Homo sapiens: one gene and its partner. The protein of the gene in region 1 interacts with the protein of each later gene in a biochemical or structural test. Each region holds a gene or a part of one and is shown in the gene's direction. Other genes may lie near its edges.

What was found.
Region 2: of the proteins of SRPK1 (region 1) and ADPRH, one has a biochemical effect on the other in vitro, tested with the Homo sapiens proteins (one large-scale study listed by BioGRID and IntAct).

The regions. Positions count from the first base shown.
Region 1 is NC_000006.12:35,834,099-35,839,553, reverse strand, and holds part of SRPK1 (SRSF protein kinase 1), read left to right. Parts: intron 1-1,124; coding exon 1,125-1,217; intron 1,218-4,065; coding exon 4,066-4,250; 3' UTR 4,251-5,455. UniProt on the Homo sapiens protein: Serine/arginine-rich protein-specific kinase which specifically phosphorylates its substrates at serine residues located in regions rich in arginine/serine dipeptides, known as RS domains and is involved in the phosphorylation of SR splicing factors and the regulation of splicing.
Region 2 is NC_000003.12:119,582,492-119,585,991, forward strand, and holds part of ADPRH (ADP-ribosylarginine hydrolase), read left to right. Parts: intron 1-3,500.

The DNA.
Region 1 (5,455 bases):
TTGTGCTCATGGTCCATATTCATACTGTGATGTTTACAGATCATCAAGCAGCTATACTTTAAAATGTTTGTGCTAATCTTTACTTTTAAAAAGTGATTTTAGGAAGAAATTAAAAGCTTTAGACAAGACATAAGATCATTGGTTTTCATCTGAGTTTTAGCTCATATTAGCCCTGAAGTTTCAAGTTAGGCCATTCATGCTTTTTGAAGTTCTATTTTCTCATCTTTAAAATGGGGTATCAGCCAGGTGGTGGCTCAGGCCTGTAATCCCAACACTTCGGGAGGCCAAGGCAGGAGGATTGCTTGAGCCCAGGAGTTTGAGACCAGCTTGGCAGTATGCCAAGACCTCATCTCTACAAAAAATGTTTTAAGTCAGCCAGGTGTGGTGGCACATGCCTGAAATCCCAGCCACTGGGGAGGCTGAGACAGAATGATCACAAATAATAGTTCTAGAATGCCTAACACATATTTGGACAGTTTTTTATCTTACCTAAAGAACCTACCTGAACCTAGATATATAGACAAAATAGAACTAAAGATGAAGATAAGCCTCCAAAATCCAGAATGGGACTTGCCAGACACTATCGGGTGACCAACCACCTGAAATAATTCTTGGCCTTCCCAGTCAGTCTTCCTTCAGTATCCTTGGTTTTATTTGTAGTTACTTTTAAACAGCTAGTCCTTGAAAAAGCTATTCATAGAAAAACCTCTTTTACAGCTTGTCCTTGATCTGTTCTTCTTACCCTTCTATTTTAGACCACATTGTGCACATTATAGAGCTGATAGGCAGAATTCCAAGACGCTTTTCCCTCAGTGGGAAATATTCACAAGACTTCTTCAGTCACAGAGGTAGTATTGTTATGTAGGACCCAGGGATACTTCAGGAAGCAGAGCATTCACACCAAGATTGTTTTTAGTTATCACTGAATCCACAAAAATTTGACTTTGTGAATTCTCCATTAGATGGATAGAGTCTTCCTCTTCCCATTTAGGATAGAAAGTAAGCCTGATAGGCTTTACAAAGAGATGTGCATGCTGCTCCTTCTGCTGTTTTCTAGAGCTGCATTTGTTACTCTTGTTACGGATCTTTTTTTTCCCCCCTCTTGAAATGTTTGAAATATACAGATCACATTGCATTGATCATAGAACTTCTGGGGAAGGTGCCTCGCAAGCTCATTGTGGCAGGAAAATATTCCAAGGAATTTTTCACCAAAAAAGGTAAAGTAAATGTGTTCCCAGACATTAAGGAGGCAGAAGTGTTTAAAAATGAAGAGGTAAGCACATATTCCCAATGTCCTACAGAATGATGGGCCTGCCTTGAATGCTAACCTGTGACTTAGCAAAGAGATAAAAAAGAGGTAAAAAAAGTGGTCAAGAGCAGAGACTGAGCCGGGCGCGGTGGCTCATACCTGTGATCCCAGCACTTTGGGAGACCAAGGTGGGCGAATCACAATATCAGGAGTTTGAGAACAGCCTGGCCAACCCGGTGAAACCCCGTCTCTACTAAAAATACAAAAAATTAGCTGGGAAGAGTGGCGGGCGCCTGTAATCCCAGCTACTCAGGAGGCTGAGACAGGAGAATCACTTGAATCTGGGAGGCGGAGGTTGCAGTGAGCCAAGATCGCACCATTGCCCTCCAGCCTGGGCAACAAGAGTGAAACTCTGTCTCACAAAAAAAAAAAAAAAGCAGAGACTGGAGCCAGGCATGGTGGCTCACGCCTGTAATCCCAACACTTTGGGAGTCCAAGGCAGGAGGATCACTTGAGTCTAGGAGTTCAAGACCAGCCTGGGCAGCACAGGAAAACCCTGTCTCTACAAAAAAAAATTTTTAATTAACTGGGCATGGTGGTACACACCTGTGGTCGCAGCTACTCCGAAAGCTGGGGTGGGAGGATCACTTGAGCCTGGGAGGTCAAGGCTGCAGTGAGCCATGATTGCCACTGCACTCCAGCATGGGCAACAGAGCAAGATCCTGTCTCGGGGAAAAAAAAGAGCAGAGACTGGAGCCAGACTGTCAAATCCTGGCTACTCCACTAGCCATGTGACCTTTGACAGGATCTAACTGTGCCTCAGTTTGCTGATTTCTTAATGGAGATAATAATAAAGTATACTTCTTACTAACAGTTAATATGTATAGTGCCTGCATGCAGTTGGTTGATTACTTCTATAGCACTTCTGAAAAATGGGCAAATTTTTTGCTGGCGTTTGGTCTAAGAACTGCCTCTACCAAAGGGCAGGTAATTTAAGCTTCTTACATAAGGGCAGGGACTACATCTCACTCATCTTTGCATCCCAGTGACACCTAACACAGTCACTCGAAGTACATTAGTCATACAAACGAACTTCACACTTTTTAGTTTTATGTATTTGTTATTACAAAAAAAACCACAAAAACAAAACTTCCAATTTTTGACTTGATAATATATTTCTTAAGCATTGCAAAAAAAACCTGAAATGTGAAAACCTGACCTAGAAGCATCTAGGAAATGGTCTGGTTTTTCTACCCCCATTGTGCCATGGTTCCCTTTTTCCTCACAACTTCTACAGAAGTGCTGAGAAAAATGACTTTTCTCAATCCTTGGCAGGAGCCATCCTCAGAAACATTACCCTTTCTTAAACCTCTTTTTAGGTGGGAAAATTGTAAAATGTTTCATAAGAGTTCCTCCTCATGTGCAGTCAGATTAAGGCATGTGTGTTTACCAGGTAGGTAATCAAATAGGCACTCACTGCTCACAAAAGAGACTTAAAATTTTTATGTTTAAAAAAAATTATTATTATTATTATTATTATTATTATTATTGAGACAGGGTATCACTCTGTCACCCAGGCTGGAGTACAGTGGCACGATCTTGGCTCACTGCAACCTCCACCTCCCAGGTTCAAATGATCCTCCTGCCTCAACCTCCCAAGTAGCTAGGACCACAGGCATGTGCCACCATACACAGCTAATTTTTTTGTATTTTTGGTAGAGGCAGGGTTTCACTATGTTGCCCAGGCTGGTCTTGAACTCCTGAGCTCAAGTGATCCACCCGACTCAGCCTCCCAAAGTGCTGGAATTACAGGCATGAGCCACTGTGCCTGGCCAACTTAAAATTTTAAAGCAGCATTTGCCTTAGCTATTAATAATTGACTATCTTTTAAAAAGTTGTCACTTCAAAGAAGCAATTAGGTTGATACTCCAGTATAGTGTAGAGCAGCGGTCCCCAATCTTTTTGGCACCAGGGACTGGTTTTGTGGAAGACAGTTTTTCAATGGATGGGGGGGTTGGGGGGTGGTTTGGAGATAAAACTGTGTCACCTCAGATTGTCAGGCATTAGGTTCTTTTATGGAACATGCAACCTAGATCCCTACTGCAGTTCACAGTAGGATTCACGCTCCTGTGAGAATCTAATGCAGCCACTGAGCTGACAGGAGGTGGAGCTTAGGCAGTAATGCTTGCTGGCCCACCACTGACCTGCTGCTGTGCAGACCTGACAGACCGCAGACTGGTACCATAGGGGGTATTGGTATAGAGTTGGGGACCCCTGGTATAGAGTATATGAAGCTGTTGTATCTGAAAACTGTGTAGGATTTGGGGTTTTTTTTGTTGCTTTTATCCATGCTTGACATGATGTTTTAACTTTACTGCCTCACTGTAAAGCAACATTTACTAAACTATTGAGCACATACACAAAAAAAGAGTATAAGCAAATTATTCTCGGTATGTGGTACTAGAGTGTCTCTGCACACCATATAAGACCATGTTGAAGACATAGGCATTTCATGTTTATTTTAGTAGTAAATACCTACTTCTTGATTGTCACACCCAGTTTGACTGGGACCAAAAAAATCCTAGAATAGGGGAGAAAACAAATTACCTTAAATTTTTGGAGCCGTATGAAGAATAGAGGCACTTCTTTCTGAGGCATATGTCAGAAAAGAAATGCTTTGTGAATGAAGGATTAGATTCTGATTGCAAAATTTGATTCCTCATAGACTACATGGGTTAGTTTGTGGGTTTCCACAAGAGTACCTTGTCATTTGTCTGTGTTGATCAGTGGCTTTTTCTGTACTGTCTTCACTGCAGGTGACCTGAAACATATCACGAAGCTGAAACCTTGGGGCCTTTTTGAGGTTCTAGTGGAGAAGTATGAGTGGTCGCAGGAAGAGGCAGCTGGCTTCACAGATTTCTTACTGCCCATGTTGGAGCTGATCCCTGAGAAGAGAGCCACTGCCGCCGAGTGTCTCCGGCACCCTTGGCTTAACTCCTAAGCCCCTGCCCAGCACCACAGCAGAGATCACACACTGACCCTCCGCCCTTCCCCTTCAAGCATTTTCCTCTTCCCTTTTCAGGGTGAAGCTCTTCCTTCAAGAGTTTCTAGATCTTGTTTTTTTTTTAATCCAACATGTTCATTTGGGTTTGCTTACTTGACCCTGTGGAGATCCCCACAGCCATTGGGCATCCTAGGTGAATTTGGCCTTGGTTGGGCTCTGCCAAAGACTAATGGACTAAAATGTGAAACAGCCTCTTGCCCTGTACCTTTCCTTCCCATTAGGACATCCTTTAAATTATAAGCATCCTTTTTGAAAAGAGCTATGAAGGTGTATGAGCCCATCCTTTTATTCATTGACTCTAAGAGTCAAATTTTCTAGTGCATATCCTATTGCCAGCATAAGGATGAGGAGGGGGAAAGGGTCTTAATTCTATGTACAGCAGAGACATTAAACTTGCTGTGTCCGGGCTGCATCATCTTCCTGGACTGTTTCTGTTGTTCTCTGTGTTCACATTTTTTCCTGCAACTTTTAAGCTACTGTCTTTTTTAAATAGCTATATGAACACCAAATTTGGGTACCATTTTATCACTGTTCAAAGCACTGTCAAATTCCTTTCATCCTTTAATAGTTAAGATCTTTGAATCTTCAGTCTGATTTTTAATGTAAGCAAAAACAGAACCATTGAATAGTAATTTCTTGAGAACCTCAGGTGTTCTATAAACAGTCCTTTCCTGTATGTCTTCTATTACCCTAAGACCAGAGTTATTTTGGTTGGTTGTTTTGTTTTATTTTTTGTTTTTGTATCCATGGCTGGCACTTTACTCATTGCACTTGAGTTTATTGCCCCATAACTAAAGGATCAGGATGATGGTAGAACGGAGATCTGGGTTTCAGAGCTTTCCCATTTAAGAAAAATAGATCTTGAGATTCTGATTCTTTTCCAAACAGTCCCCTGCTTTCATGTACAGCTTTTTCTTTACCTTACCCAAAATTCTGGCCTTGAAGCAGTTTTCCTCTATGGCTTTGCCTTTCTGATTTTCTCAGAGGCTCGAGTCTTTAATATAACCCCAAATGAAAGAACCAAGGGGAGGGGTGGGATGGCACTTTTTTTTGTTGGTCTTGTTTTGTTTTGTTTTTTGGTTGGTTGGTTCGTTATTTTTTAAGATTAGCCATTCTCTGCTGCTATTTCCCTACATAATGTC
Region 2 (3,500 bases), on another chromosome or scaffold:
AAGGAGGGCAAAGAATAAAACAGCCTTGAGGAAATCATTAAGAATGTTGATGGAGATTTAAATAACAGAGACAATAGTGTTTGTAAATGTGATAAAAATAGAAATAACGGCCATGGTGGTGGCTCATACCTGTAATTCCAGCTCTTTGGGAGGCCAAGGTGAGAGAATCACTTGAACCCAGGAGTTCAAGACAAGCCTGAGCAATATACGGAGACCCTGTCTCTAGAATGGGGTAGCCAATCCCTCTTCTAGAGACAGGTACTGATCCGTGGCTTGTTAGGAACTGGAGCACACAGCAGGAAGTGAGTGATGGGCGAAGGAGCATCATCACCTGAGCTCTGCCTCCATCAGATCAGTGGCGCATTAGATTCTCATAGGAGCCTGAACCCTGTTGGGAACTGCACATGCGAGGGATCTAGATTGTGGGCTTCTTATGAGAATCTAATGTCTGATGATCTGTGGTGGAACAGTTTTGTCCCAAAACCTCCCCCAACCAACCCCGTCCATGGAAAAATTATCTTCTGTAAAACCGGTCGCTGGTGCCAAAAAGGCTGGGGACTACAACTCCAGAAAAAAATTTTTAAAACATTAGCCAGGTGTCATGGCACATACCTGTAGTCCCAGCTACTTGGGGGGCTGAGGTAGGATGATTGCTTGAGCCCGGGAGGTTGAGGCTACAGTGAGCTAGGATCGTGCCACTGCATTCCAGCCTGAGTGACAAAGCAATACCCTGACTCTAAAAAATAAAGAAATAAATAGAAAGAACCTAAATCTCTCATAATTAATTAAGCTGACACATTTGCAACCATTTAAAATTATTCAGGGTGACTCTACTCAATAACAATGTATCGTATATTTCAAAATAACCAATAGAGTAAATTTCAAATGTCTCACCACAAAAAAAAGTGAGGCAATAGATATGCTAATTAGCCTGATCATCCCACATTGTTTACATATATCAAATCATCACATTATACTAAATAAATGTATATAATTGATTTGTCAATTTAAATATTAATAAAAATTTAAAATTTGCAAATAATATTTACTAATATTGAAAAGTATTATTATACACTAATAGGTTATAAAATAGTATGTATGTTATGAACCTACTGTCCTTTAAAAAATAGATCTGTGGGGCCAAGTGCTGTGGCTTACACCTGTAATCCCAACACTGTGAAAGGCCAAGGTGAGAGGATTGCTTGAGTCCAGGAGTTTGAGACCAGCCTGGGCAACATAGCAAAAGCCTGTCTTTAAAAAAAATTTTTTTGAGTGGCCAGTTAAAAAAAAATTTTTTTTTTTTTGAGATGGAGTCTCACTCTGTTGCCCAGGCTGGAGTGCAGTGGCACGATCTCGGCTCACTGCAACCTCTGCCTCCCAGGTTCAAGCGATTCTCCTGCCCCAGCCTCCCAAGTAGCTGGGATTACAGGCACGCACCACCACGTCTGGCTAATTTTTGTATTTTTGGTAGAGATGGGGTTTCACCATGTTGGCCAGGCTGGTTTCGAACTCCTGACCTCAGTTGATCCACCTGCCTCAGCCTCCCAAAGTGCTGGGATTACAGGCATGAGCCACCATGCCTGGCCAAAAAAAAACTTTTTTTTAAAAAATAGATATGTATTTCTGTGTTGAGAAAGATCTTGAAGAACATGTACAAAGATGTTACTAATTATATTTGGGTGATGGGAGTATTTATAGTTTTTTATTTTTACTTACTTGTATTTCTAAGTTTTCTGTGATGAATAAGTAAAAAGAAAAATGTATATTTTTTATTTTTAAAGAAAAATGCGGCTAGGCATGGTGGCTCATGCCTGTAATCCAAGCACTTTGGGAGGCCAAGGCGGGCAGATCATCTGAGGTCAGGAGTTTGAGACTAGCCTGACCAACATGGTGAAATCCCATCTCTACTAAAAATTAAAAAATTAGCTGGGTGTGATGGTGCACACCTGTAATCCCAGCTACCCAGGAGGCTGAGGCACGAGAATCACTTGAACCCCAGAGGCGGAGGTTGCAGTGAGCCAAGATCGCGCCATTGGACTCCAGCCTGGGCGACAGAGTGAGACCCCATCTCAAGAAAAAAAAATGCAAAGGCTTTTGTAGAGACTTCTGGCCACAGGTTCGCTCACAAGTGGTTCTTGCCCACTTCGGCAACTTGTTAGAGCCACTTGGGCCACCAGGTGATTTTCTCTGGCCCATCTGACCTACCTCTCCTATTTGAGGCTGCTAGGGCTGCCATAACAAAATGGCATAGACTGAGTGGCTGAAACAATGGAAATTTGTCTCTCACAGCTCTGGAAACTGGAAATCCAAGTCAAGATATTGACAGGCCTGGTTTCTTCTGAGGCCTCTCTCCTTGGCTTGCAGATGGCTGCCTCCTCGCTGTGTCCTCACATGGTCTTTCCTCTGTGTGCATGTATCCCTGGTGTTTCTGTGTGTTTGCATTCCTCTTCATGTAAGGACACCAGGCAGATTAGATTAGGGCCTACCCTAAAGGCCACATTTTAGCTTAACCACCTCTTTAAAGGCCCTATCTCCAAATCGAGGTACTTAGAGCTACAGCATTTGAATTGGGGGGACTCAATTCAGCACATAACACCTCCTGATGAAAGCTTCCCATCACCATACCAAGGGGCCCTTGTCACCCCAAGGATTGGCTTTAGATGCCAATCTCTGTTCATCCTTTCTCGGCATCTGATAGCTCATCAGTTTAGCAAGTGGAAACTTTTTTTTGTCCACCTGTGCCATCCATGAACATTTTTGTGAAAACACTGACCAGTAAAGGAACAGCAGTGCCACACTCCATCGTATGTTGCTGCCATCGCTTGGTTCGCATGCGTATTCACAGGTCCCCAGTAGGACAGGTCGGGGGACAAGCCTGCTTACGTCACTGTCACGAGGGGATAGCCAAGGCCCAGAGGTTCAGTGACTCACCAAAGACACATTGTTTCCCTGAATCCACTGCTCCTCATCTGAGCCCAGGGCTTCACTGTAGAATTTTTGGCCGCTTTCTTTCTTTTTGATGTTCAGGAACTCCAATTGTGAGGTTTTTGTTTTTTGTTTTTTGGTTTTTTGTTTTGAGACGGAGTCTCGCTCTGTCACCCAGGCCAGGGTGCAGTGGTGCAATCTCGACTCACTGCAACCTCTGCCTCCCGGGTTCAAACGATTCTCCTGCCTCAGCCTTCCAAATAGCTGGGACTACAGGCATGTGTCACCACGCCCGGCTAGTTTTTTGTATTTTTAGTAGAGACGGAGTTTCACCGTGTTAGCCAGGATGGTCCCGATCTCCTGACCTCGTGATCTGCCTGCCTCCACCTCCCAAAGTGCTGGGATTACAGGCATGAGCCACTGCTCCCGGCCTAATTGTAAGGTTCTTATTGGACTCCATAAGGAATTGGGCTTTGGAGTCTGATGGATTTTACCCAGCCACTAACTAGCTGATTATGTGATTTTGAGGAAGTTTCTTAAGCTCTGAGCTTAAAAGGCTTATTTACTTAAAAAAG